Linked DNA regions of Homo sapiens. The protein of the gene in region 4 interacts with the protein of the main gene of each other region in a pairwise test. Each region holds a gene or a part of one and is shown on either strand. Other genes may lie near its edges. The genes, in order: TMEM14A, LEPROTL1, TMBIM6 and SLC7A1.

Region 1 (7,620 bases), on a different chromosome or scaffold from region 4:
GGAGAAGGTAAGGGAGTACTTTGGTGAGTTTGGGGAGGTGAATTTCTCCCCAGGATATGGTTTATGCTCCCCACCAGCCACCAGTGGATGCTTTTTTCTGTTTTCCTTGGCTGGTGGAGTTGTCAGTGGAGCTGCTCTCACCTCCTTTCTTGCCTTTGGAGGGCCGCCTTTTCTGAGTTCCCTTTAGGGCCTGAGCCAGGGGAAGGCATTGGCCCTGAGCTTTGCCTGTGTTTCCAGATGGAGGCCATTGAACTTTCAGTGGATCCAAAGTCTAACAAAAGACAATGTCTTGTTTTCGTCACCCCCCAAAGAAGAGGAACCTGTGAGAAATATTCTGGAGAAATTTAACACCATCAGTGGAAGCAAGGTGAGGAGTCTCTACCTCCATGTGCCTCCCCTCCTGCCTCTGGAGAGGTAGCCCTTTGGTTAATGGCAACCCAATAGGGTAACCAACCATCCCATTTTAGCATTGAGAGCATTGTGTCCTGGGAGACCCTTCCCTGGAATGTAAATAATCCTGGTTTTAGCAACAAAGTGTGGAAGGTTGGAGGAAATGCACAAAACCCGTAAGTTTTAGAGGGTCTGAAAGCAACATTGTCTATCAAATGGATACGGCACAGATTATTCATCTTTACTTGTTGTCACCCATTTGACCACTGATACTGGCAACCATAATTTGTAGTTCAGAATGGTCATCCATCCATCGTTGCATCATTCAAAGTGATGTGGCTTAAGTGTATATAATGATTATTAATAGTTCATCTTCGACTTTGCCTGTGGATTAATTGGTGTGCTTTGTAACAAGATAGTGCTAGTTTAATTTTTTAACATTGTGAATATTGTGACCATGTTTTCTAAGAGGTCAGATAATGAGAATGGTTATAATACCAATGCAACCATGACCCCATCACTGAAGAAGAAGGCTAAACGACTATGTAATTTTGATGATGGATGGAAGGACACATACTACTGAACTAGGAAGGTAAATAACCAAAACAGAGCATACTACATAATATACAGAAAAAAATTTGAGATTGGACATGGTGGAGAAGGGGATGTGCAAGCACATATGGAGGGCAAATCTCACAAGTAAGATGGGACAGGTGAATGCTTCTAAACCAATCAAAAATACCTTTGTTTCCCCAAAAGACACCAATGCTCAGTCAAAAATAGCAGCTGCTGAATTAGCATGGGCATACCAGGCAAATAAGCCTGCATTGTCATAGCGTTCCCTTGATTGCTCTATGAAACTGAGTAAAGTTTCATTTCCTGATTCAAGAATTGCAGCTAAAATATCCTCTGGACAAAGAAGAAGGGAAATTTTTTGATAACAGATGTGTTGGCTCCTTACAGTATAAAGCCAATTTCTGTCATATCTCACCAACAATCCTGGTTTCTACAGTACATCAATTTTAAGTAATATGCCAAATCATGGCAGCAAAAATATGTTCCCTCTAGCTGTTAGGTACTTTGACTTGAAAACAGGAGTTTCAAATCATCTTCTTCATTTCTGTGAGGATTTTAATGAAACTGCTGAAATCATAAAATATTGTTGATATTTTGTCTAAATACAAACTAGACTTAGCTCATCTATCTGTGTATTCGTCAGACAGTATAGATGTAAAATTTTGGCAAATTGCATTCAGTCTACAAACTTCTTACCAAAGAAAATGAAAAGATCTTATCCATTCAATGCCTTGTACATCTTATATACAACACTGCTAAAAAGGGATGTGAGTTGCTTAAATGTGACATTGAGACTTTCATAATGAAAGCTTTTGGTTACTTTTCAATTTCCTCAAAAAGTGCAAAAGCACTTATGGAGATTTTTGACTTCACAGAAATGGAAGGTAACCTCTTTAGACGTGTGCCTGCAAGATGGCTGTCATTGTAAGTGAGCCATAGAAACGATGCTAAAATGTTGGCCTGCCATAAGATCATATTTTCAAAGGACAAGAATAATGTCCTTTGACATTGTTTGAAATCTGAAAGGAGAAAAAAATCAAGAATCTGAAGTGGGCCTTAAAAAAATCAGTAAGTCCCTTGTGACTCTGATTTTTATGAATCTGTCTCTCAAAAGCCAGGGTGCCCCCAGAAGAACTGAGACAAACTGAGTTTCTGAACATTTGAAAATGAGGAGCAGGCTCAGGATCCACAGGGTGTAACCATCCCGTGAGGCCCTGCCTGAGCAGCCAGCCAGTCAGTGAGGCTCTTCACCTTACTTCCATTTCTCTGATTCCATCTATGTACAACTTACGAAAACTTGCATTATTATAGACTGGGAGTTCTTAAATTGGAATCTGTGAATCTAAAGGGGCCAGAGGATAGAAATCAGGAAATCTGAAAACTTCGATGGAAAAAAGTTTTTATTTATTTCCATCAGGAAAATAGGCAACAAACCACAGCAGTATTAGTACCTGTGTCTCTGTCATCACTAGGAATCACAGATATCCACGTTACAGATATCTTAAAATATTTATGTACAGCACCACTCTGAAATTATGGTAATAATTAGATCCACCCCCTAGGTCTTGTAATCTTTAATATGTTAATAAAGAAGCACATCTATTATGTGACAGATTTAAATGTTTAAGAATTTGATTTCAATGAAATTGCATTTCAATAAAATTGGCTTCCTTTGCAATCCTGTGTATTTTATTTTGTGCATTTCTCCAGACTGCCAAAGAGGTTGGTGACACATTGAAAGTTAAGAGTCTCTGCTGTGGATCATGCATAGAAAGCTTTACAAAACAGTTGAGGGGAATAGGCTTTCCTGCATCCTTACCTTGGGCTGCAGCCTTTCCATTAGCTGGAGAAGGCAGCAGCTGGTGCCTATGAGTTGAGAGGGCAGTGGTCCCTTTGCCTAAGAACCATCCTGTTCCCACATATTCAAGGGTATGGAATTCCCATAATATTCAAAGAGTTTTTCTTTAGTTTTAGGTGATACGCCTTGAGTAGGAATATCATGAGGCTGTTTCCAGCTTCGAGTATGTTGGTGATAGGGTGTAAGGGATCTCAGAGCATCTAGTCTTGTCCATATCTTAAATCCAGGCACTGAGGTCCAGAGGGGAGTTATTTACCCAGGTCACATCAGATGAAGATAATGAAGTATTCCAAGAGGATTTTAGTTTTATTCCAAATAGGGTAAGTGTTCTGAGAGTGTGAGGAGAGAAGGTGAGGAGGCTGGGGTAAGGATGGGCATAGAAGGGGATGGAAAGGAGGGCTGAGAGAACTCAGAACCAAATTTCAGGCTATCACTTTCTCCACGCCACATTCCAGTGCCTTGCCATCAACTCTTCTGTGAATCTTCAGGAATTTTATTAATTCCCCAGGACCAACTTAGACTTTCATAAGTTAGATGTAGTTATATTACTTCCCTGAAGCACTTTTATGCACAAAGAATAGATGTAGCAAACAAACTTCACAAGATTTAATTTTTGAGTTTCCTTTTTTATTCTGAGGAATTCCGCTGTAATTCTCAGTGACACAGAACCTCTAGAGCTACTTCACTATGACAACCTTCTTCAAATCTCCAAAGGGCTGTTACATAAGGAAGAGGGTCGGAGTTCTGTATTCAATCAAGAAGGCAGAAGATTGAGATGATAAGTTGCTACAGGGAGGCATAATTTAAAGTCAATTTAAACTGTAATCCCAGCACTTTGGGAGGCAGAGGCGGGAGGATTGCTTTGAGCTCAGGAATTCAAGACCATCCTGGGCAACACAGTGAAACCCCGTCTCTACAAAAAAAAAATAGTCGGGTGAGGTGGCACACACCTGTAATCCCAGCTACTTGGGAGGTTGAGGCTGGAGAATCGCTTGAACCCAGGAGGCAGGAGGCAGAGGTTGCAGTGAGACGGGATGGTGCCACTGCACTCCAGCCTGGGCGACCGACTGAGATCCTGTATTTAAAAAAAAAATAAGGTCAGTTTAAGTTTCGTTCCTGGGATTGAGCGGATTGCCTTGCATTAGGCAAGGTTTTAAGTGCTTTCCAACTCTGGAATTCTATACCTTTCCCAGTAGATATCTAAACCCAGCAAATCCTGGGCCTGAAGTTTAAAACTAGGATCCTCGTCTCCCAACCACATCTAGATGATCCCATAGTGTAATGAAGGGTGCTTGGGCTTTGACACCAGGCAAACTTGGATTTTGACCTGGGACAACTAAGTCACTTGACCTCACTGAACCTTAGCTCCCTCCACTGACAGTGGGGACAGTCTGCTGGAGGGTGTGTAGAAGACCTCGGGTTGCCTTTTGGAGGTTCTGGAAATGTCCCTTGAAAGATGAATGGAGTTAATTTAAAAATCTTCGCCTTCTGTAATTTTGGCTTCTTGCAAACACGCTTCCTGCCAGTCCTGCTCCGTCAGGCGGGAGGCAGCAAACCCCAGCCCTGGCTCCAGGACAGGGCCGAAGGCAGGATAGACGGAGCAACGGGTCCGGCTGCCGCCGGGATGTTGCAGCACAGGGCCTCCTGGCTGCCTGGCCTACAGGCCGCCCGGATTCAGCCGGAGGGCATGGACCGGGTGGAGTCCTGCAAGGCGAGAAGGGACACAGCGCATGCGCGCGGCAGGGAGGGCGTTTCCAGGAGGGAGCGGCCTTTGCTCAGCGCGAGACGGCTGGGCGCCGAGTGGGACAGCGCTGGTGCGGAGACTGCTTCCGGACTCCAGGTACCGCGCTTGGCGGCAGCTGGCCCCAGACTTCTGTCTTTTCAGCTGCAGTGAAGGCTCGGGGCTGCAGGTGAGCTGTGCATCCCGCAATGGAGACCTTCCTGCTCTGAATTTTCTTACAAAACTGCAGAAATATAAGGGGCGTTGCTTAGCGGGCATCCCCTCCCCCGCGCCAAACCTGTACAGCAAACGATGATGCAGAGGACCTTGAGGGGATTTTGCAGGGCATCGGTCTTACCTCCGCGGTATCATTTTTCTCCTCCTCCCGAGTTTCTGCCTTCTGGTATCCCTAAATATCCCACCTATCCTGCCTCCTACCTTCCTGGATCTGGGGTGGTGGGGTGGGCTCATGGACCATTGCAAAATGCTTGGCAGGATTTTAACCTTCTCAGCACCACCCAGACCCCACTCGAAAATGTGCCTTTTGTGCCCTCCAAGAGCTCAAGGGTAGGTAATTGTTATATCTTTAGCATGTGAAAATGCTTTTTATGTAACAGTTCACCGAAAATCTCTTAATTCTCCGAATTTTGGAGGATTTGGGGCGGGCAGCGAGGCTGTCCCCTGTCACCTTGTTTTGTACCTGGTATGGTAAATCGTTTTGCTGCATTGCATCCAAGATGCGTTTTAGTCCTTCCAAGGCTTGAGCATCACATTTGTGATGAGAGCGTGTGATGTGCTGTGCACATCCTCTCCCACCTTATCCCTTCCATGTTAACACAGCCTCTGGCTTTAATGTGTGCTTCTGGCCTGGCCACATGGCTCCGTCATGGAATAGGTGATTCTTTTGTCTGAATATTCTCTGTGAGAACAGAATCTTCTTGCAAGCATTGGGAGTAGATTTATTTTGCCTCTTTAGAACAACAGTCAGTTCGCTAAGGAGATTAAGGGGCTACCTGTTTCCTGGCAATAAAGCTGTATTGGGTAGGTCAGTTACAGAATGTCTTCAGGCAGAAGCTGTTCCTTTGGTTCACTCACTCATTTATTCATTTAACAAGTATTTTAAGTACCTGCCTTGTGCATGGCAGGGTTCTTGGTGCTGTGAGGAGGACAAAGATAAACTGAACCTTGGTTTGCCCTCAAGGAGCTTGGCTGGCTGAGAGTTGAGAGAATCCCAACCAAGTAAAAGGGTATGGGTCCTCAAGAGAAGATCGCAGGAAGAGCTGGGGGGCTCAGGATGGAGTGGAATTAATCTTTCACAACAGCTACTTAGCTTTAGGAGAAAATTAGGTCTAGAAGTTACACCTGATAATGAAAGAACTCTCATAAGCTTCAGATCTGTATGTAAGGGTGTTTTCCGGACTGTGTGTTGGGCGTCTCAGACTGAATACATTCTAAACAGGTCCCATCATTCCTAGCCACCTCCCTCTTCCCACCGCCACACACCTGCTGCTGTTCCCATGTTCTCTGTCTCAGGGAATAGCATGAGGCTCCCCGACTCCCTACTTCTCCTAATGGTCTAAGCCAGATACCTAGGGGTGAGTCATCTCTGATTCACCCCTGACTTTCCCTTCCCGCCTCAAATTCAATTCTGATTCTACCTCCTGAACTTCTGAAATCTGTCCACCTTCTCTCCATTCTCATTGCCATTTCTCTAGATAAGCCTACCGTTATCAACTAAGCTCTTGCTTACTTTACTGCAACAGCTTCCCGATTTATCTCCCTGCCTCACTTCACAACCCATCTTCACTACTGCAACTGGGAAGTGCTTGCTGGAATTTAAATCTGATTGTGAGGCTCCCTTCAGTGATCCTTCATTGCCCTTAGGACGGAACCAGACTCCCTTTACGGGGCTTATGTGGGTGTACAGCCCTGTCTTTCTCACCAGCACCCTCTCTTTTCACAAGCCCCTTGCACTTTTCATTTTGAGAACATGCTTTCTTGTGCCATTAGGGCCTTGCACATGCGCTCCCTTCTGCCAGGAACACCCTTCCCTGCACCCTCTTCACTTGACTTATTCATGCTCCCCTGTAGGGTAAATGCACCTGACAGCAATAATTAAAGCATACCCTTAGAATGACCCTGTGTGGCAGATGAACCTGAATGTGTTTTCTGAACTAGGGAACCCAGGCCTGCCCAACCCAGAGATTTATTTCTTGTCTATGAAGAACATCTGAGCCCCTGCCCCACCTGTCCCATAGAACAGGGGCCATACGGGGAATTGAGGCCTTGAATTTTGAGTTAAATCAAGTTGCCAGGTAGAGGTCATTGAGGGGAGGGTGTTAAGTGAAAATGCTGCATAAATTGCATGATGTTTGCAAGCGGTTGTTTTCCTGCCCAGCTCACCACCACTGGACTCCCTCCTCTGTTTGTAAGCCCCTAATGGGTCTCTTTTGGCCTCTTGAACCTGTTGCCTTCCTTATTGAGGTTAATAGGGGTTTGGCACAACATCTCTCCAAGGTCCCAGCTGGGACCCTGTTTGATCTGGGCATCCTTAGGCTCCCAGTCCTTGCTGGGTGCCACTCCTTGTTATGGTACCCACACCTCTCCTCTTAGGGCTCATTCACACATCTGCCTCCTACAGCTGTGTTGTACTATAGTTCCTGGAGGACCAAGGCCATGTCTTAGCACTTACCATTGCTTCCTGCTGCCTTGCCTAAAGAAAATGCTAAATAAATAGCTGTTAAGTCGAATTGACTACAAATATATGTTATAATACTATGGTATGATTCATTAACTAAATTACAAATTCACCCTACCTCAGTTTTCTCAGTGTGCTGAAATAGTAATAGCCTTACACATGTCAAGCTTAAAATAGGTGTAAGGGTGAATGAGAAGAGTAATCATTGGAGCAGCTAATATTTGTTGAGTGCTCAGTATGTGCAGGCACTGTTCTAAGTGCTTTACAGTATTAAATCATTTAATTCTCAGAACAATCCTATAAGGTAGATATTTTTGTTATCCCTATTTTAAAGATGGAGAAACTGAGTTATTGAGGTTCCACAGCTAGTAAGTGGTG
Region 2 (7,472 bases), on a different chromosome or scaffold from region 4:
TTCCGTGTAAACAGCGTGTATTTCCATGGCATATGTTCAAGTGTGCCTTGTGGTTTTGTTACCACATCCTTAAATGGAAACTTTTTTCATGATACAGGAAAGAGATGGTAGATCTTTCTGCACTAACTTGAACAGAAAAAAATTCTACTCTCCTACAAAACACCCATAGACTCATTTGGTGCATTAAGACTCAAGAAGTGACCTGTTTGTTGTTGTTGTTGTTGTTGTTTAAATTGTAATTCAACTCTAGAAATAGTAGAGAGAAGCGAAGTGGGTAATGCCTCAAGCTTCCCATTTGCTCTCATTTTAAAGCATATTGGAAATATCTCTTCTAAACATTCACTCCACAGTCTTACATGCCACTTTATGTTAGTCTGATGACTGAAAAAAAGTTAAAAATTCAAATCGTACGTAGCTCACCCCCACCTACTTCCTTTTAAAACCTTCAAAAGATTTTTATTGCTCAGAGAGAAAACCCAAAACTGCTTGTGTACGTCCCTACTATATAAGCATGCTGCCCCACCCCAACCTTGACCAACCCCATTGGCCACCTCTCTTTTCTCCAAGGGACCAAGCAAGTTCCTTGCTCCATTTGCTGCCAAAGCTCCTAACTCCCCACCACACATACATACATGCGCGCACGCAAACACACAAACACACAAAAACACAACACACAAAACACACACAAACACACATGCACAAACACACGCACACACACAAACATGCATACACACGCAAACGTGCACAAACACGCAAACACATGCAGGCACACACAAACACGCCCACAACACAGACACGCACGCACACAAACACACATGCACGCACAAACGCATACACAGACACGCACACAAACGCACGCACAGACAAACGCACACACACAACACCCAAACACGCACAAGGACGCACACACACGCACACACAAATACCCATGCACACGCAAACACGTACACAAACACATACACACAAACACGCACAAACACATGCATGCACACACACATGCAGGCACACACAAACACAAACACGCACACACACAAACACACGCAAACACACACACACAAACAACACACCCCGCCACCTGCGATGGCTTTTCCGTTCTCTATTAACACATTTATTCATCACTGTGTTGTCTCTCCTTGGGGGAAATTTTCCTTGGCAGATCGCAATCAAAAGTTTTCAGAGAACTATTTACCCATCTTTCCTAGTGTAGGAAAGGATAAAAACTTTCTTTACCCTCCTAGGTTCAGAAGCTGAGAACTGTGAATTAAACTAACAAAGTACAGATTACCAGGAAAAAAAAAAAGGTTTATTTTGCATGCACAAGGAGGCTTCACAGAAAAGAAGTGAAAACTCAAAAAGTAATTAGGCCTGGGAGCATGTATCATTTTAACAAAGGGTGATGCATTGTGGAAAAGTAGACAAAGGAAAGGTTTTGGACTTCTAGGGGCAGTAGATTTTAAGAAGGTAAATATATAGGGGAAAACTAATGAAAGATAAGGGCTATTTTAGTAATGTTTTCACAGACTCCAATAAATGCTGTTTACTGGGGCATAGGAGTTGCATCCTCTCCCTGGTCTGGGAAATGTAAATATTTATAAGTAGAAAAATTTGTTTACACATTTTTTGGGGGCCAGGCGCAGTGGCTCACACCTGTAATTTCAGCACTCTGGGAGGCCCAGGTGGGCCGATCACTTGAAGCCAGGAGTTCAAGACCAGCCTGGCCAACATGGTGAAACCCTGTCTCTACCTAAAAATACAAAAATTAGCCAGGCATTGTGGCTCATGACTGTAATCCCAGCTACTTGGGAGGCTGAGGCAGGAAAATCACTTTAACCAAGAGGCAGAGGTTGCAGTGGGCTGAGATCACACCACTGCACTCCAGCCTGGGCGATAGAGCAAGACTGAAAGTTAGCTGGGCGTAGTGGCGCGTGCCTGTAGTCTCAGCTACTTGGGAGGCTGAGGCAAGAGAATCGCTTGAACCCAGGAAGCGGAAGTTGCAGTCAGCCGAGATCATACCACTGCACTCCAGCCTGGCCACAGAGCGAGACTCCGTTTCAAAAGAAAAACAAAACAAAACAAAAAGTGGAACTTTATGTTATCTTTACAAAGGGAACTTAAGCACGGCCTTTGGGTAGAAAAGGAGAGAGCAGAGAGCTCCTCCTATGCCTGTTGCTTCTTATTTGCTTTCAGCTCAAAACAATCCTTAGCCTTATTTTCACTCGTGTCCGTGTGAAGAGACCATCAAACAGGCTTTGTGTGAGCAACAAGGCTGGTTATTTCCCCTGGGTGCAGGTGGGCTGAGTCCGAAAAGAGAGTCAGCGAAGGGAGATAGGGGTGGGGCCATTTTATAGGATTTGGGTAGGTAAAGTAAAATTACAGTCAAAGGGGGTTGTTCTCTGGCAGGCAGGGGCTGGGGTCACCAGGTGCTCAGTGAGGAAGCTTTTGAGCCAGCATGAGCCAGGAGAAGGAATTTCACAAGGTAATGTCATCAGTTAAGGCAGGAACCGGCCATCTGGATGTGTACGTGCAGGTCACAGGGGATATGATGGCTTAGCTTGGGCTCAGAGGCCTGACATTTATTTGTTTGTTTGGAGACAGAGTCTTGCTTTGTTGCCCAGGCAGTGGCACAATCAGAGCTCACTGCAGCCTCGACCTCCTAGGCTCAAGCAATCCTCCTACTTCAGCCTCCCAAGTAGCTGGAACTACAGGCACACACCAAGCCTGGCTAATTTTTTTTTCGTTTTTGTAGAGATGGAGTCTCACTATGTTGCCAGGGCTGGTCTTCAACTCCTGGGCCAAAGCGATCCTCCTGTCTTAGCCTCCCAATGTGCTGGGATCACATGCCTGAGTCACCACACCAGACTTCAAAGTGGCATATTTTAGAGTGACATATTCTGATCCCCTTTACTAGCAATTATCATTATTGCAATTTTACATTTTTTGTGTGTCTGTCTTCCTCACCAGTCTGCAAACAGTACCTGGTTTTGCACATCTCAGCGTCTAACCCTGTGCCTAACACATAGTAAATGTTCTATAAATAATTGTAGGATGTGTAAATAAAGGTGTTGAACCTGGGCTTTCACTTTTTTTTCCTTGCCTTGTTACTACCAAAAAGACAGCCACCCAAGGGACTGGATTTCTATTAAATCCACCCTTTACTGAGCCCTGCTGCTCCTATCTCTGGAGGTGGGTCCTCACCAGAACCCTAGTCCTGTATAGGAAACCAAGGAGCCAAGTGCAGACCACCCAACTAACCTTAATTATAGGACTGGGGATGGAGGGATGGAGGGAGAGAGGAAAAGGCGCAGTAAAATAATGTGCGCAGTGGCTCACACCTGTTGTCGTAACCGAGCGAGTTATAGAGAAACACCACACTTTGAGACTAATTCAGGAGTCCTTTATTGCCGGCGACCGAGAGACGACTACAGCTCAAAATTCTCTCGGCCCTGAAGAAGGGGCTAGATTTCTTTTTATACCTTGGTCTAAATAGGGAAGGGGTAGTCTAGCTGAAGCAATTTTTACAGAAGCAGAACAGGCAAAGAGTTAAAAGATAAATGGTTATAGAAACAGTTACAGGAAAATAAACAGTTCCAGGTGCATGGGGCTTAAATTATCACAAAGAGATAAACGCAGGGGCTTTGGGTACCATCAACCGAGCGCGTTCCCAGGAGCTGCTGGTACAGCTTGCCTCAGTATCTTATCAGTAAGCACATTCCTGGATGTGCTTGGTGTCAGTCTGCACCAGTTATGTCCTTAAGGGAGGGGGACAAGGTGCTGCAAGCGAAGAAACCAAAATGGAGTCTGTCCCGCTCTCTCAGCTAAGAGCGAGTCAATCAGGTTAAAACAAGGTAGGGTATCAAGCTGTAATCCCAGCGCTTTGGGAGGCCGAGGAGGGCAGATCCTTGAGCTCAGGAGACCAGCTTGGGCAACAAGATGAGAGTCTCACACCCCGCCCTGTCTCTACAAAAAACAAAACAAAACAAAACAAAAAAAAGCCAGGCATGGTGGCTCATGTCTGTGGTCCCAGTTACTGCGAGGCCGACGTGAGAGAATCACTTGAGCCCTGGAGATCGAGGCTGCAGTAGCCGTGATCACACTCCAGCCTGGGCGAAAGAGACCCTGTCTCAAAAAACAAACAAAACAATGTGAAATTAAGCCAAAAGCCATCACACGTGCATCCAAAGGACGGCCGCTACCCGCGACCCCTTCCCAACGCACGCGGGAGGTTGCGGGATCAGGGACAGGGGCTTCAGCAGGGAGCCCCCAGACCGGCCCTGACAGGAATTCAAGACCTGGCGCCTGCTCATTCCCCCAGTCGGGGCGGCGGCGGCAAGCCTCGGCCGGCGGCGATCTGCACACCCGCGGAGAAGAGAGGCAGGGGGTCGACCCCACAGCCCAGCCCGGCGCGTCCCCCGCGCCCCCGCGCGAGCCCGAGTCGCCGGCGGAAGTGCTGCGTCGCGCACTTCCGGGTGTTGTCTGGCCGCCGTAGCGCGTCTTGGGTCTCCCGGCTGCCGCTGCTGCCGCCGCCGCCTCGGGTCGTGGAGCCAGGAGCGACGTCACCGCCATGGCAGGCATCAAAGGTGGGCCTGGGTTGCAGGACGCGGGAGGGCTGGGGCCGGCGGGGGAAGATGGGCCGGGGGTCCCACGCGGCCCCCGCACTTCCCCTCCGGGCTCGCGCGCGCGCGTGGGGTCCCTGCGCCGGGGAAGCGACCCCCGCCCCGGCCCTGCGCTTGGCCCGGAGGTGGGCGCGGCGCCCTCGGGCAACGGACGGTTGCGACCCCGGCTTCGCCCCGCAGCCCCCACTTTCTGCCGATTTCGGCAGCCTCTCTCCCACCCATCGCCCCCCGGACAAAATATGAAGTGGTTGGCGGTCAGTGAGGAGTCCCGTCGCGACTTGGACGGCCACACACGTTTTGCAGGAGTTTGCATCCGAGAGAGAGGCAGGCAGAGCGTGGGATTGAGAAGGCTGAGGCTGCTAGAGATGCCAGCTATGGAAAACCAGTCATTTCCCACCGAAAGGCACAAGTGCGGTCTGCGGGCGCTGCACGGGTCTGCCCGAAACCTCGACCCCACGTCCACCCCGGCCGCCCGCGCCCGAGGCTTTACAGGCTCCCGAAACGGGTGCATTTTCATCTGCGGTGTCTGGACCCTAGAGTTGATCCTGTAGGCGACCCCAAAGTGCTCCTGGCTCTCTTCCCTCTCCGCAGTTGCACCCTGAGGCTTTTTCAAATTTCAAAATTTTTCTTTTTTTCCTTTTTTTTTTTTAAGAAGATAAAATACTGGTACAACTTAATGAAAAACTACTGGCTTATTCATGTATTTTCTTTTAAAAAAAGGAATGTTGCATTTGTTCCACCTGTTAGGTAGTTTTGTTGTCAGTGTGATGAGAAGCAAAGTTTTCAGCTACTGCTTAACTAATTACATTGATTTCTTGACCTGCCGCTCTGTAGAAGGGCAGTCAGGCAGGAAGCAGGTAACTTTGGGAGCAGTGGTTTTCTTTGTATTTTTTCTTCTCTAAGGAAAACTTAATCGAGTTTTTTTTCAGGGTCACAGTCTTACTGTTTCTTGTTTATTTTCAATGTCTGAAAACATTTCATTTCCCATATAAAACCTTGTCATTTAAGCAACTGGGATACTTTGTAATCTCCTTTTGAACTATGATAGACTCTAAACCCTTATGTGAAAGGCAGTTATTGTGAATTGCTGTGGTTTTTAGGATGTTGCCCGTTTCCCTGTTCTTCCCTGTTTCTTCAGTGTCAATAATGCGGGGGTCTCTTAAGAAAATAGCTTTGTAATTTACTTCTCCAGACCTAGGGAAATACTGCATTAAACTGATGAAGGTGCCTCAGGTGAACTGCACTTTTGATTTCAGCAGGATTTTCTGGTTGTTATGAGTCAGTATGTTTCTTTCTCTTGGCCTAATATCTTTATATTAGGAAGGAGTGTTGCTGTAATTAGAGACCATTAGGCATTGCTTGAGCCATTTGTCTATTACTTTTTGATATATTGGATTTTCTGGTAACTCCCAGGTTAGAGAAGTGGTCCCTCCTTCTACTCTAATTTCTTTGTAATCACAGAATCAGCATCTTGTCTCTAGAGAGTTTTGCTAGATAATTGGGCTGCTCCATGCCTAGCCTAGAGGCTTTGGGAGTAGAACCCAGACTTATCTAAGCTTTGTCTTCCAAATGTTGCATCACTCAATTACTGTATGAATTCTTGCCTTGTTGATGTGTCATTTAAGAAACAGCTTATATACAAATGATGAAGTGTATATATAAATCTTCCTAGTTGCCAATTTCATAAGATTGAAGAAACTGCAAGTTTTGAGAACACTTTTAAGCAATTTATTTAACCTCTAATTGGCTACCTTATTCGGTATGACTGGAAGATGAGATGTCACATCAAACTGTGTTATGAATATTTAAAAAAAATTTAGTATTTAATCCTGGCGCGGTGGCTCACACCTGTAATCCCAGCACTTTGGGAGGCCGAGACGGATGGATCATGAGGTCAGGAGTTCAAGACCAACCTGTCCAAGATGGTGAAACCCCATCTCTACTAAAAATACAAAAAAATTAGCTGGGCATGGTGGCAGGCACCTGTAATCCCAGCTACTCAGGAGGCTGAGGCAGGGAATTGCTTGAACCCGGGAGGCAGAGGTTGCAGTGAGCCAAGATTACGCCACTGCACTCCAGCCTGGGCAACAGAGTGAGACTCTGTCTCAAAAAAAAAAAAAATATATATATATATACACACACACACACACACACACACACACATATTTAGTATTTAATGGAGTAGAAGTATTATCTCAAGGTATCTTGATTCCCCCAAACAAATGTTATTCCAGTATTCATATTCATAGCACTTACAATAAGACAATCTTGGTTTATGTTTTTAAAATTGTTTTTTGATACCTGAGCCTTATCTCATTTTAGTCCCTTGGTTTTTTTTTTTTTTTAAGGAATCATTTTTCATTAACTTTGTAAGAGTGTAATCAAAGAATTTAGGCCTTCTTTTTTGATAAAAACTTGAATGACTGTTCTCTGTCACAGAACAGCCACCTTCAGAGGCCCTCATGGTCCTAAGGTGGCTTGCCTCTTGCGGAGATTACCGTGAACATGCTTTTTGAGATTTTTCTGCCTGGTTTAAATTTTTTTTGTTGTTTCCTCCCTCCTGTCAAAGGGCAATTCTTGCTTGTATGCAACTCTTTCTCCTAATTCCCATTTGTTTCAGTGTGGGAAGATAAACTTAGAAAATTTTGTGTCACAAGGTATATAGGTAATAGTGATTACTTTTGATAAGAGAAAGTTCCTTTTCACTTAATTTTTGTTCTGGGTATATGAATTACCTATTGAAAAATATATATAAGTGAGCATAGATGATTCTTTAAAATAAAAATGTGTTTTACTCTGAATTCCCATCTAACAATTGTGTCACGAAAATGAGTTAGTATAAATAAGAACTTAAGGGTC
Region 3 (7,024 bases), on a different chromosome or scaffold from region 4:
GTAGGTTCCACTCTGAGCCAGCTGGGGAATGTTGATTTGAGGTTACAGCACTCTTGATCTGATAATAGGGTCTAAATTTGCTCTAGAGACTTTGTAGTGCTTAAATCTTGGGGATAGCTGAGCTGAACCAGATGCAAGCTCTGCCCTCAGGGTGAGAAGTTTCTGCACAATTAACTGGAATCCAAAACACGTGAAAAAGGAGCTTCACCAGTGAGGGTGAAGTGGGTATGCTGTTTGTCTTAATTTATGTGTGCTCCCCATTTGGGCTAAATATGGTGTTATTAGGGAGGGATTACTGGTTTATACTGGAAGAAGATTATGTATTTAGGATTTTGGGGCCTTCTTAGGATTCAGTATCTGTCAAACGTTATAGAGAGGGAGATGAAGTAGTGTCAACGTTTGGTACAAAAAATAATTTACTGAAGGCAGTAGGCATTTCATCTCCAGTTACTGGTTTGGTTTTGAGGCAGCCCCCTGGAGGAGATGGATTCAGTATTAGCTAATCCAGGGATTTGGGTCCAAGTTAAGGGAGAGGCGGGGACATCTAGGGTGTCCACCTGGGAAGATCAAAGCTTGGTCCTAGTTGAATGAAACAATTCCTTGGATGGTTCCGAAACTGAACTGACCTACCTCCTGGGAGTGGCAGGGAAAGCATCAAGCTTTTGCGCATTTACTTCATCAAATCCTTTACCATATCAGATTATCACTTAGTGGCTATTAGGCTGTCTCAAAATGTCCATGGCCCTGTGGGACAAGAGAGATAGTATAAATGTGCTAGAAGAAAGGTATGCCATTTAAACAAAAGTACAGACGGGCCCCAATTTATGATGATTGGACTTAATGATTTTTTACTTTATAATGATGCAAAAGTGCTACCTGTTTGCTAGAAACTGTACTTCAGGCCAGGCATGGTGGCTCATGCCTGTAATCCCAGCACTTTGGGAGGCCGAGGTGGGCAGATCACTTGAGGTCAGGAGTTTGAGACCAGCCTGGCCAACATGGCAAAACCCTGTATCTACTTAAAATACAAAAATTAGCTGGGCATGGTGGCACACACCTGTAATCCCAGCTACTTGGGAGGCTGAGGCATGATAATCACTTGAACCCAGGAGGCAGAGGTTGCAGTGAGCTGAGATCGTGCCACTGCACTCCAGCCTGGGCAACAGAGCGAGACTCTGTCTCAAAAAAAAAAACCCAGCACATTTAGAATTTCCATCTTTTCCCAGACTAGGGATATCTGGTATGATATTTTCACATGAGATATTTAACACTTTATTATAAAGTAGGCTTTGCGTTAGATAGTTTTGCCCAACTTCAGACTAATGTAAGCGTTCTGGGCACATTTAAGGTAAGGTAGGCTAGGCTTAAGCTATAATGTTTGGTAGGTTATATGTAGTAAGTGCATAAATTACGATACTTTCAGTTTACAATGGGATTATTGGGATGTAACTTCATTGTAAATCGAGCATCTATACTTTTACCAGTAATGAGATTTTTCAAGTGCCTTTATGTTTCAGTTTATAATTTTCTTTTCTCTCTTTTTTTTTTTTTCTTTTTTGAGACAGAGTCTCACTCTGTCGCCCAGGCTGGAGTGCAGTGGTGCAATCTCGGCTCACTGCAACCTCCGCCTCCTGGGTTCAAGCCATTCTCCTGCCTCAGCCTCCCAAGTAGCTGGGATTATAGGCGCCCACCACCACGCCTGGCTAATTTTTTGTATTTTTAGTAGAGATGGGGTTTCATTGTGTTGGCTGGGCTGGTCTCGAACTCCTGACCTCAAGTGATCCGCCTGCCTCAGCCTCCCAAAGTGCTGGGATTACAGGCTAAAACTAGACTTTTAAAAGAGAATAATCTACTGAAGATATTGTAGTAATGAGTACACCAGTAATAACAATGTTAGTACACCAGTAATAACAATGGTTACCATGTATTGAACTCATTCTATGTACAAAGAGCTATTTTAAGAACTTTATTTGTATTATCTCACCTAATCTGCAACCTTAGGAAATAAGGATTGTTATGTACTAGTATTTTACACATGGTAGGTGAAACTGAAGTACAGTGAGGTTAAGTGCCAGCAGCTTGCTGCATGTCCCACTGCTAAGGAAATAACTAGGATTCAGAAGTAGCAGGCAGTCTTAACCACTATGCAGGGGACATGGTTATACAGTGTATGAACATTACTCAGTAGTAAAAACTAATGAATGGAAAGCTTTCTTGGCCAAAAACACAGAAGAAGAAGAAGAAGAAGAAAAAAAACTACTGACAAATTACTAACAGTTCTTCCCCCTCCTTTTTTTGTTTTTGTTTTTTTGAGACAGAGTCTGGCTCTGTCACCCAGGCTGGAGTGCAGTAGCGCAATCTCGGCTCACTGCAAACTCTGCCTCCTGGGTTCAAACGATTTTCCTTCCCTAGCCTCCTGAGTAGCTGGGATTACAGGCGCCCACCACCACATCTGGCTGATTTTTGTATTTTTTTACTAGAGACTGGGTGTCACCATGTTGGCCAGGTTGGTCTCGATCTCGTGACCTCAGGTGATCCACCCACTTAGGCATCCCAAAGTGCTGGGATTACAGGCATGAGCCACCGTGCCCAGCCCTTTCCCCTCTTTTAAACTATATGGGATTTTTCTTCTAAGTATCAATTTGGTCCCTTCTAGATATGTGGGAACAAGGTTCAGGATGGTTGAATTTATACAACAGGAAGAAAGAACCATGTAATTGACAAACTAATTTTTTTGTTTTAATTTTATAAAACGGTTTTGCTGTGTTGCCCAGGCTGGGGTGCAGTGACACATTTTTGCTCTGTTACCAGGCTGGAGTGAAGCAACATGATGATGGCTCACTGCAGCCTGAAATTCCTGGGCTCAAGCAATTCTCCTTCCTCAGCCTCCCAAGTAGTTGGGACAACAGGCGCACACCACCACACCCAGCTAATTTTTTAATTGTTTGCAGAGATGAGGTTTTGCTGTGTTGCCCAGGTTGGTCTGGAACTCCTGGGCTCAAGCGACCCTCCCACCTTGGCTTCCCAAAGTGCTGGGCTCACAGGTGTGAGACATTGTGCATGGCCTTTTTCCTTTTTTGTTTTTTGGAAGTGAACATAACCTTGAGACTTTATTGTCTTCATAATAAAACATAAACTGATATTTAATTAAATGTGCGAACAGTGTTTCTTTGACTTGCTGTTTTAATGTTGCTGTACACACTGAGGCAAAGTCTGTCTTGGCTCCAGCATTGCATAGAACGCATACTAAATCCACGATAGTTTTGTTTTGCATAGCTTTTGGCTACTTCAGCATGTTTCATGTTCACTGTAGCTCCTAGGTGTGTGGGAATAGGACTGAAGAGAATGGTTGTGTTTTTTTTAATTTTTAAATTTTTTTTACACGTAGTCTCGCACTGTCACCCATGGTGGAGGGCAATGGCGTGATCTCAGTTCACTGCAACCTCCGCTTCCCTGGCTCAAGCGATTCTCCTGCCTCAGCCTCCTGAGTAGCTGGGACTATAGGTGCCCGCCATCACGCCCAGCTAATTTTTGTATTTTTAGTAGAGACAGGGTTTCACCATGTTGGCCAGGCTGGTCTCCAACTCCTGACCTCATGATCTGCTTGCCTTTGCCTCCCAAAGTGCTGGGATTACAGGCGTGAGCCACCGCACCCAGCCTGTTTTTTTTTTGTTTTGTTTTGTTTTGTTTTTAATTTAAGGCTGGACCCTTGATAATAGTCTTTCATTTTAGGACAAGGGTAAGGGAGATACCTAGAACAAAACAAGGCATTTAACATGACCTAGATGTCCACTGCTAAGAATGCCTGTCTCCTCCTACCAGCCCCTGCTGTCCCTGTCTTCCCAAGCAAAAGCAGACCACAGGAATATCTAACTCAAACAATTGTGTTTACTTGAGTTTTTTCTTGGGAGAGCTATGTATTAAGCTCTTAGCTTTTTGTTTTTGCATGGCTCTGGCAGAGGAGGCTGGTCAGGGATACCACAGAATGATGACACTTCAGCAAAACTTTAGCAGTATGTGCATGACATGTTGACAGCTTCTGACAGGTTTTCCTCTCCTGGGATGAAGGCATAACAGGAGGCTCTGAATGAAATTAGAGGAATTTGGTTATGATTAACACCTGAACATTTACTTTTCAGTTACAAACGCAGTATAGGCAGATTTTCCACAACTCCAGGAGGCACTATCCACATTGTATTCTATGTAAATAACCCCTCCTCTTTATTTTAGAATTGAATTAGTAAGTAATAGGCTTAGAGGTGTGAAAGGACTGCTGTATTGAATTTTTTAGCAGCTTGTAATGTACTTTTTTTCTTTATTGTGGTAAACTATAACATTTTAATGTGTTTTTTTAAAACAAAGATTTTCATTTAACTGTGGGCTCCTCTGGAATGTTAGCGAGTTACTTGGTTAATGGTACTGAATATAATACTTCAAGCTCTTAAGAGCTGATTGCTCCTAGAATGGAAAATACTTGATATGAGAGCTGCTATTTTTGAGTTAAGTGCAACTTAATCTTGTTTGGCTGAGTTTGCATATCGGCCATTGAAATGTAGGTATCTTTTCTGAGCTTCGCTAGTTGAAGCTAAGATTGAAACTTGGTAAGTTTATTTTATCTGGCAAAACTTGTCAGAACAGTTTGATCTCATTACTTATCTGTATATTCTTGTCTATTTGGAACAGCTCTAGAGCAAACTATCATATTTCTTTGATTCTAAGACCTATGTATTCCCTCTCACATTTTAACATTTCTGAAATTGTCATCTGTACATTGTGTCATATACATTAAATGTATACAGATGCTCCTCAAGACGGGGCTGCATCTGGAAAACCCCATCATAAGTTGAAAATACCGTAAGTTGAAAATGTAAGTCCTTTTCTTTTTGTAAGTCATTTTTGTTTTTTTTTGAAACGGAGTCTCGCTGTGTTGCCCAAGCTGGAGTACAGTGGTGTGATCTCGGCTTACTGCAACCTCCACCTCCTGGATTCAAGTGATTCTCCTGCCTCAGCCTCCCAAGTAGCTGGGACTACAGGGGCGTGCCTCTATGCCCAGATAATTTTTGTATTTTTTGTAGAGACAGGGTTTCGCCGTGTTGGCCAGACTGGTCTCGAACTCCTGACGTCAAAGTGATCCACCTGCCTCGGCCTCCCAAAGTACTGGGATTACAGGCGTGAGCCACTGTGCCCAACCTGTAAGTCATTTTTGAGTCAACGATATTTTTAATTTACAATGGGTGTATCCAGATGTAAGCCATCGCAAATCAAGGAGTGTACCGAATGAGTATCAATTTCTCCCAGTGATAGGTCAACCCTGGTAAGTCAGGGACCATCTGCTTTACCAGGTTTCTTTTTTTTCTCCATAAAGCTAATAAAATTGCTGTGCCCTTTTGCGTCTATAATATTTGGTAGTTACATGTTTTGTTTTAAATTTTGAAATACTGATATTGAAAAACAGAAGTTTTAGTTATTTTTTAATGATTTCAAACCACAAGCTTCTATTAAATCAAAGTGAAATTGCCGTTTGACATCTCATCCCCCTGCCCCAACCCACACAGCCTTTGATGGTTTTGGTTTTTCCATCAACAGTTGTTAAGAGAGAACCAGAAAGAGGCAGTCAGTACCCCCTGGGAAACGTCAGAGAAGTATCTGAGAAAGGGGAGTTTCTGCCATTCTCCCCTCGAACAGATTCCGCCAAGCAGGGTCTGGTTACATGAGCATTGCCTCTTTCTTAGAATCCCCTGGGCGTTTGAGGATCCACCCCGCTCCATCCCTTACCTTTCTTTAATTCTTGTAATTGGAAGCAAGAGGTTCTTTAGCATTGCTGTTGTGAATACTGAGAAACTTGGCTCTGAAAGTTGCTTCAGTATTATTGTAAGTGCTGTCTAGGGATGTCATTAGGGGTGTTAATGGGAAACCTTAAACAAAGACACTTTCCAGGTGCTGAATTCTGCCATGCTGTAAGTGTGCTCTCTAGAGGACATAGTCATATTCATCTTGGTTATGGAAGGCTGTGGTTGGCCTTGTAACAACCTGCAATAATTGCACCATCTAGATCAAGAGGGCCCAGATCCGTGTGACTCAGAGGAGAGAGCAACAACCTTAGTAGGTTCTGCAGCTTCTCACTGTATCTGTCCTTAAGAACAGAATTAACAAAAGTTCTGAGGTGAGTAGTGATGTTAATGAGAGAAGGAAAGAAGAAACCAGAGAAAGCAAGCCAGCCATTGTGATTGTTTCATTTGTGGGAGAGAGCCTCAGGAAGCAGATGATGTTTATATCTTTCCACTGGCCCAGGATTCCTTAGGAAATTTGTTTGGGGACTGTAACTTTTATTATTACCTAGATGAATTGTTCTGAGTGTTGGGCTGGGTGCTGATTAGAGTGCTTCATTCAGTAGGTGGCGTTTCACACAACTTTATGTTTGAATCCCTTCCTCCCTGCCCCTCCTTTTCTGGTAGATTTAAAATGGATGGGCATTATGGCCCTGATAGGAGTTTGGAGGATTTATATTTAGAAGAGATGAAAGTTCTTGACTGGATCTTTAGTACTGTAGATTGAACACGTTTACTTAGGATTGCATGTGAAATAGGGGAGGGAGCAAAACTTAAGAACTTGACTTTATGGTGTTGATATGATCTAACCTGGATATAGTTCAGTTTAAAAATGCCCTTTTTGACATTGGGACAGTTGGCAAAAATCTGAATAAGGTCTGCAGATTAGAAATAGTATTGCATTAGTATTAATATCCTGATTTTGATCATTGCTTTCAGGATATACACACTGAAGTGTTTAGGAGCACTGTGTCTGTATGGTTAGGGAAAAAATATTTTTACATCTGTCTATATATTGCTATATAGAAAGAAGATGAAGCAAATGTGAAATATTAGCATTTAGGAAATCTGGGTGAAGGTTGTACAGGAATTCTTTGTACTGTTCTAACCTTTCTGTAGGAAAGGTTCTGAAACTGTCAAAAAAATACCCCCCAAAAAATCCTCCTTTCTGCATAAATTCCTTTTTTATGGAGGTA
Region 4 (6,849 bases):
GCATTTTATAGGTTTGTGTTTTACATTTAGGCCTATGATCTGTTTTGAGTTAATTGCTGTGTAAGATGTTAAAGTCTGTGTCTAGATTTATTTTTTGCATGTGGCGGTCCAGGTCCAGTTGTTCCAGGACCATTTGTTGAGGAGACTATCTTGTCTCCATTGACTTGTCTTAGCCACTCTGGATCAGCTATTTGTGTGGGTCTAGGCTACTGTTTGGGTTTCGATGTTTGTGCCCTCCAGACCTCATGTTGAAATTTGATCCCCAATGTTGAAGGTGGAACCTAATGGGAGGTATTTGGTTCACGGGTGTGGATCCTTCATGAAATGTCCTTCCTGGGGGTAGGTGGGACGGGGAGATGAATTTTCACTCTATTAGATGACTCTGGAGCTGGTTATTTAAAGGAACCGGGCCCTTCTCTCCTCTCCCTCTTGCTTATACTCTTGTCATGTGATCTCTGCACACACGCACACTCCCTTTCATCTTTTGCCATGAGTGGAAGCAGCCTGAAGCCCTCTCCACATGCAGATGTCCAATCTTGAACTTTCCAGCCATTAGAATTGTGAGCCAAATAAACCATTTTTTCTTTATAAATTACCCAGACTCGAGTATTCCATTATAGCAATACAAAACAAACTAAGTCTATTTCTGAGCTCTATATTCTGTTCATCTTTATACACATTTTTCATCCTTACCATGAAGTTCGTATGTATCCAGCAGGTAGTAAAATTCTTATTTCGAAAATGAGGAAACTGAGGCACAGAGTGAGCAGGGCCCCTCTCCCCAGGCCAGCAGCTGGTTAGAATTGAAACCCACATCTGCCTGGCTTTGATTCTGTGCACTTTCCTTGCCCCCAAGGTGCCTAATGGTGCTAGAAAGAGACTTAGTATGTCAACCTTAACCTTAGATGTTGCTCTCTAGGGCCTAAATTGTAGCATCTCCCTTTCTTAATGGTTGCTGGAATCTTGGGCAGCTGCTCTTTGATTGTAATCAAGGCTGCCTGTCACTCACGGTTTCTCTGAACCTGTAATGTGAGTCTTGACCTGCCTAAAAACTGGCTTTGCTTAAAACATGTAGCCCTCTTTATCAGCATCCTCTAATGTTTTGCTGAGATCTTGTGCGTAACTATTTTTTCCCTGGTTCATACTGAATCCTTTTTGCTGAGAAGTCACTTGCTCATGGGGCTTGTCTTATTGTCTTTTTGAAGACAGGACCTTGCTGAGTGGGATTGCTAAACGGAGCACAGTGCTAAAAATCTCCTGGGTTAAATGTCACCATACTCCCATCAGGGCCTGGAGCACTTGCTCTCAGAATTTACAAACATTAACTCATGTTGGCGCTCTGTGTTGCCCAAGGAGAGCATCTCTACAATTTATGAAATTCTATTTTACTGCCAGAAGTCAGCAAAGAGAAAAAGAAAGAAAGAGAGGCAGAAAGAGAAAATTCCACAGTCATATTTCAAACACCAAGGGATAGATTTTTTTCTTAAGAATATAAGATTTACAAGCTCCAAACAGGAGTGAAATAGTTTGCAGAAGCTCTCACAGCAAATGAACTGGTAGAGTTCAGATTCAAATCCTGATCTGGTGCCAAGGGCAAAGCAGGTGGTCTTTAATCCTACCAGGCTTCTCTCTGTGAGAAGGGGACATGCTTACTGTGGCCTCAGCAGACAGAGTAGGCTGCGTGGGATCTGGGAGATCTTCTGTGAATGGAAGGCATCATTTCACCACTGTGCAATTGAACTAAGATACATTGTTTTATTTATTTTTTATTGATTTTTATTATTATTTTTTTGAGACGGAGTCTCGCTCTGTCACCAGGCTGGGGCGCAGTGGTGCGATCTTGGCTCACTGCAACCGCCGCCTCCTGGGTTCAAGTGATTCTCCTGCCTCAGCCTCCCGAGTAGTTGGGACTACAGGCGTGCGCTACCACGCCCAGATCATTTTTGTATTTTCAGTAGAGACGGGGTTTCACCATGTTGGCCAGGATGGTGTCAATCTGCTGACCTCATGATCTGCCTGCCTTGCCCTCCCAAAGTGCTGGATTACAGGCGTGAGCCACCGTGACAGGCCAGATTTGTTGCTTTAAAACAAAGCATATATGGTGGCTTACTATGATGTCAAGCACTGTTCAAAGCACATTACAAAGCTGGGCAGGATGGTGCTCGCCTATATTTCCAGCTACTGGGGAAGCTAAAGTGAGGCGATCGCTTGAGCCTAGGAGTTCAAGGCTGCAGTGAGCTATGATGTTGCCACTGCACTCCAACTTGGTGACAGAGTGAGACCCACTCTCTAAAACAAAGACAAAAACACATTTTACAACTGCTAAGCCATCTGCATGTGTTCATTAAAACTTTTTCTGGGGACTTTTTCTGGCTCATCCCTGTAGTCCCGATGCTAGGGGAGGTTGAGGCAAAATGATCGCTAGACAGCTGGTATTTGAGGCCAGCCTATGCAACATATCAAAAACCCGTGTCTATATGTAGAAAAAATATTAACTAGGCGTGATGACACAAGCCTGTAGTTCCATCTGCTTGGGAGGCTGAGGCAGGAGGATGGCTTGAGCCTGGGAATTTGAAGTTCCAGTGAGCTATGATTGTACCGCTGCATTCCAGCCTGGGTGACAGAGTGAGACCCCTGTCTCTAAAAAACAAACAAATGACAACAGCAACAACAACAGAACACTTTTTCTGAAGCTAGCACCATGCAGTTATGTACTTTATAAATTGCTAGTCTAATTCCAAGGGAATAGTTCAGCAGCTGATATTTGAGAAGGACCTGTAGAAAGGATTCAAAGACCACGGACACCGTCCACTGTTTTTCTGTTTTCCTATAAGATAGAAGAAGGATGGCATTATTAATTTATGCCCTGTTTACCTATCCCAAGTCCCAGATCACTGGATCTTTAAAGATTATGATTCTCGCTTGGCTTTTGGTACAAAAGGAGACAAGGAGGGAGCTTAAAAGGTGAGCACGGTGTGATTCAGGACTGAAGCTTCTGCCACTTCCTGGGGGGTAACTGCAAAAGTGAGCCGTTCTGACTAGCCGTTTGTGCATTTGCCACTGCCAAGGGGGCACAGGTAGATTCAAGCTTTGGGGCTCTTCTGACAACTGGCAAGGATAAGGTATTAGCAAGGGCAAAGGAATAGTAATAAAATAATCCAATAACAAAGACATGAAGATTTATAATAATTTTTAGGCCGGTGCAGTGTTTCAGGACTGTAATCCTAGGGCGCTTTGGGAGGCCCAGGCGGGAGGATCGCTTGAGGCCAGGATTTCGAGGTTAAGGTGAACTGCGCTCCAGCCTGGGCAATAGAGTAACACCCTGTCTCTAAAATGAAAAGAAAACAGTTTAAACCTTTTAAGTGCATACCAAATCTTTTATTTTGGAGAAGGAAAACTGGTCTCGAGTTCCGTGTGAGCTCCCTGGGGCCCGCCGGGAGGGGGTTGGCACGGCCGGACCTGCAGCACTAGTTCTGGCCAGGGCGCTGTGGGATCTGCAGGGGACCACAGGATGCTGTGGCGCGGTGCGCTCAGATTGGCGGAGAAACGGCCACACGCCTACGGAGCTACTGAGAAGGCGAGCGGAGGCGCAGCCCGCCCGCCCGCCGCGGGAACCCCAGGTTGGGGCGCTGGGCGCGCGAAGACTCAGCCGCCCCGCCCACCAAGGGCGCGTCGGTCCCCGGCCGCAGCCTCTGGGCTGGCAGCCGCCGCCGCGCCGCGCTCCCATTGGTGCCCGGCGGTGACGCGGCCGAGCGGGCCGGGGCTGCCTGGTCCGGGGGCGGGCGTGGGGCGCGGGGCGCGGAGCGCGAGGGGCGGGGGCCGGGCGCACTGCTGATGAAACCTGGCGCCGGAACCCGCCAGCCCTCGGCGCCCATTCAGTCCGCGCAGGCAGGTGTGAGCAGCGGGTCAACTACCTGGCAGGCGCGCACGCGGCCGCGGGCTCCCGCTAACCGCAGCCTCCACTCCTCTCCCCGCGCGCCGCGCCCCCGCCCCGCCCCGCCCCGCCCGGTCTCGCCGGCCGAGCGTCCGTTGGTCCTTGAGCGCGTCCGACAGTCTGTCTGTTCGCGATCCTGCCGGAGCCCCGCCGCCGCCGGCTTGGTGAGTGCCCGGCCCCGCCAACGCAGGGGGCAGCTCCTTGGGCCCGGGTCATCACGGAGGGGGCCCTGGCGCCGCGTGGGGCCGCGGCAGGGCGGCGCGGGAGTGGCGAGGGCCCCCGCGCCGGGAACGCTGCCATCCTCTGGGAAGGGCCAGGACCAGGGCCGGGCGGGCCCCGGAGTGGGCGAGCGGGGCTGGTGCCCATGCGACTGTCGCCTCCACGGAGTCCATTTTGGCTCCCTGAAACCGCGGCGTGGTGCATGATGCAACACCGAGTGAGTAAGCGTGGGCGATCTGGCGATGCCCGCTCCGCGCGCCTGTCCGGGGACCCGCGCGCCGCTACGCACGGGGTGGTCGGGGTGCGTAGGCGGGCGGCGGGCACGGGGGCCAGACTGGGAGGCACACGGAGCCCGCCGGCGGCGAGGAGACCTTCCCTTACATGGCGCGGTGCAGAGCACCCCGCCCCGCCACGAGGTCCGGGGATGTGTCATCAGCCGTGGGTGGGGACTCTGCCCGGCCGCCCGGAGGGTGGTCCCGCGGCAGGTGGCCGGCCCAGGGACTCTGCTGCCATCCCCGCCCGGTGGCCGCCCTGACCTAGGGCGCCTGGCTCTCCGCTTGTCCCTAGAACCCGGGACGCGCCGCCTGCACCTCTCGTCTGGGTCCCCAAGATTGCTTTGAGGAAGTCTCCCCTAGGTGGGCTTCCTTGTGACCCAGTGTGGCCTGGAAAGGCCGGGTTCCTCAAGCCCTCCACATGGTTTGGAATGAGAGGAAGTTCTTCCGCCTTTAGCAAGACACCGTATTCTCAGGGTGTTCCTTTCTGCGTAGTAGAAAACTTCCCAGGCATGGGCAGGTCAGAGTCATTCTAAAACCTGCGCGTACACAGAGCGGCAGCTGCACTGTAGTACTACAACAGCCTGCTGGTTCAGCTCCTGACCCTTTCCAGGGGATGGGGGAACCAGACAGCAGTTGTGTTTGACTTGTGTGACTAGGATAGTCAGACATGTGCCTTCAGGAAAAAAATAAATAAATAACCTACATTTCCCAATACTCACGTCATCACCGCCATGCCCTCATGTGTTGGGTTTTAGTCCAGACATAGTTACCAGATGGTTGAGATTTCAATCCCAGGTGTATCTCCCTAAAGAATGTGCCTTTTATCTTACTTACATTCGACTAGTAGAATTGTGTATGTCGGCCTCTGGCCGAATGCCCTAATTGTATTTAATTCGAATTATAATTTATCTGGGATTTTTCCTAACATTTCTTGCCCTTTATGTTTGGTTCAGATAATAGGAAACCATGATACATTTATTCCTCTGGTATTTTTAGTTGATCTCAGTGGAAATTACCATGATTTTTATATGAACACACCCTCCTGTTATTAAAACAAAAGGTCTTATTTAAGTCACACGAACAGAATAGAAACTTAGGGGAAAGGTCAACAATAGATTAAAATGGTTTTAAAAATAGGTTTAGCATATTACGATCATGTTTAATTATTATAAAGGTAAAATTCAAAGGATGTCAAAGGAGTTTTGAGTAAAGAGGAAAGGGCTTAGTAAGTAGATCAGAAATGTACTCCCTTGTCTGGGTCTGGATCCTAGAGCCACGTGCTCCTGTACATATGATTACTTGCTTTAGGTGAAAAAAAAAAAGAAAGGCTTGAAAGACAAGACTGTTGACTTCAGGGAGTTACAATTTTCTATTTGGTAGAAGAACTCATTCTTTGATGGAATTAAATACGTGTTGATTGATTATTCTGGTCTGTAGTTTATTTTAACCAAAGTCCATACAAATAGATAATTATGTTGGAGGGCTCAGAATTATGTCCAATTAAATTAATCCTTTCTCATTATCAACCATGTATTTGGAGGGATTGCTATTAATCCTAGGGACAAATTTGAAATGTGAATAAGTGCATCCTTGTTATGGAGAAAAATATTGTTTCCCTCTAACCTTGGAGATACTTGAGTCTCGGAGTTATCTCTTCCAGAGGCATCTTCAGAGATGCCTATCACTCCACCTGCCTCTTGGTCCTCACTCCAAGCAAGACCTTCCGATAGGATGTGGTGTTTTTCTGTATAGTTGGCCCCTGCAGACCTGGATAGATTTTAAAGGCAGATCCAATAGGATTGGCCGGTGGATTCATGGAAGGACGAGAAAGGTCAAATATGACTCCAAGCACATCGGAGTTGCTGTATTAATGAGATGGGAAGGCTGAGCAAAGAACGTGTTGGATGGAAGAGGGACTTTTTGAAAGTCACAACTGACCTTTTTAGAACTCTTATCCCCAGGGTCAGGGCTGGAAGATGTATCTTCTTGGGGCCCCTCTCAGGTGCCTGCCTGTGTGTTGCAGCCACCCGTCCAGGCTGCTGGCCTCCTTCCCCTTCACCTAGCTTTACTGGCTCCTCTCGCCAAATCTGGGGGGTCTCTTCAGCCTCTGTCTCCTTGCTGCCCATGGCCTCCCTTTGCTCCCCTGCCGCCTTCTAGTGGGCCGCCTGGTGGTGGACTTGTCCTGTGGGATGGAGACCCTCCATACATGGGGTTCAAAGGTCCTGGGGTATTCCTGGATCTTCAGGACATCTGCCTACCCTCAGGTTTCCCAGGCCTCGGGTGGGGAGGCATCAGATCCCTGGCCAACCTGCTATCCACCCCAGGGTTTAGACCTCTCTTCCCGTGAGGGAACAGAGTAGTAGCTTCATTTGTGGCAGATTATCTGCCTTGTGATAAACTTTAGTGGCCTCCCTTTCTGTT

Evidence for each region.
Region 1: the proteins of SLC7A1 (region 4) and TMEM14A interact in binary tests that used the Homo sapiens proteins (3 or more experiments, as listed by UniProt).
Region 2: the proteins of SLC7A1 (region 4) and LEPROTL1 interact in binary tests that used the Homo sapiens proteins (3 or more experiments, as listed by UniProt).
Region 3: the proteins of SLC7A1 (region 4) and TMBIM6 interact in binary tests that used the Homo sapiens proteins (3 or more experiments, as listed by UniProt).

What each region holds. Positions count from the first base shown.
Region 1 is NC_000006.12:52,666,512-52,674,131, forward strand, and holds the start of TMEM14A (transmembrane protein 14A), read left to right. Parts: upstream 1-4,601; 5' UTR 4,602-4,734; intron 4,735-7,620. UniProt on the Homo sapiens protein: Inhibits apoptosis via negative regulation of the mitochondrial outer membrane permeabilization involved in apoptotic signaling pathway.
Region 2 is NC_000008.11:30,090,952-30,098,423, forward strand, and holds the start of LEPROTL1 (leptin receptor overlapping transcript-like 1), read left to right. Parts: upstream 1-4,456; 5' UTR 4,457-4,561; coding exon 4,562-4,577; intron 4,578-7,472. UniProt on the Homo sapiens protein: Negatively regulates growth hormone (GH) receptor cell surface expression in liver. May play a role in liver resistance to GH during periods of reduced nutrient availability.
Region 3 is NC_000012.12:49,744,543-49,751,566, forward strand, and holds part of TMBIM6 (bax inhibitor 1), read left to right. Parts: intron 1-6,065; exon of another isoform or gene 6,066-6,163; intron 6,164-7,024. UniProt on the Homo sapiens protein: Endoplasmic reticulum (ER)-resident protein that confers cellular protection as an anti-apoptotic protein by limiting multiple stress-inducing pathways surrounding the endoplasmic reticulum and mitochondria.
Region 4 is NC_000013.11:29,592,665-29,599,513, reverse strand, and holds the start of SLC7A1 (high affinity cationic amino acid transporter 1), read left to right. Parts: upstream 1-3,825; 5' UTR 3,826-4,098; exon of another isoform or gene 4,099-4,370; intron 4,371-6,849. UniProt on the Homo sapiens protein: High-affinity, low capacity permease involved in the transport of the cationic amino acids (arginine, lysine and ornithine) in non-hepatic tissues.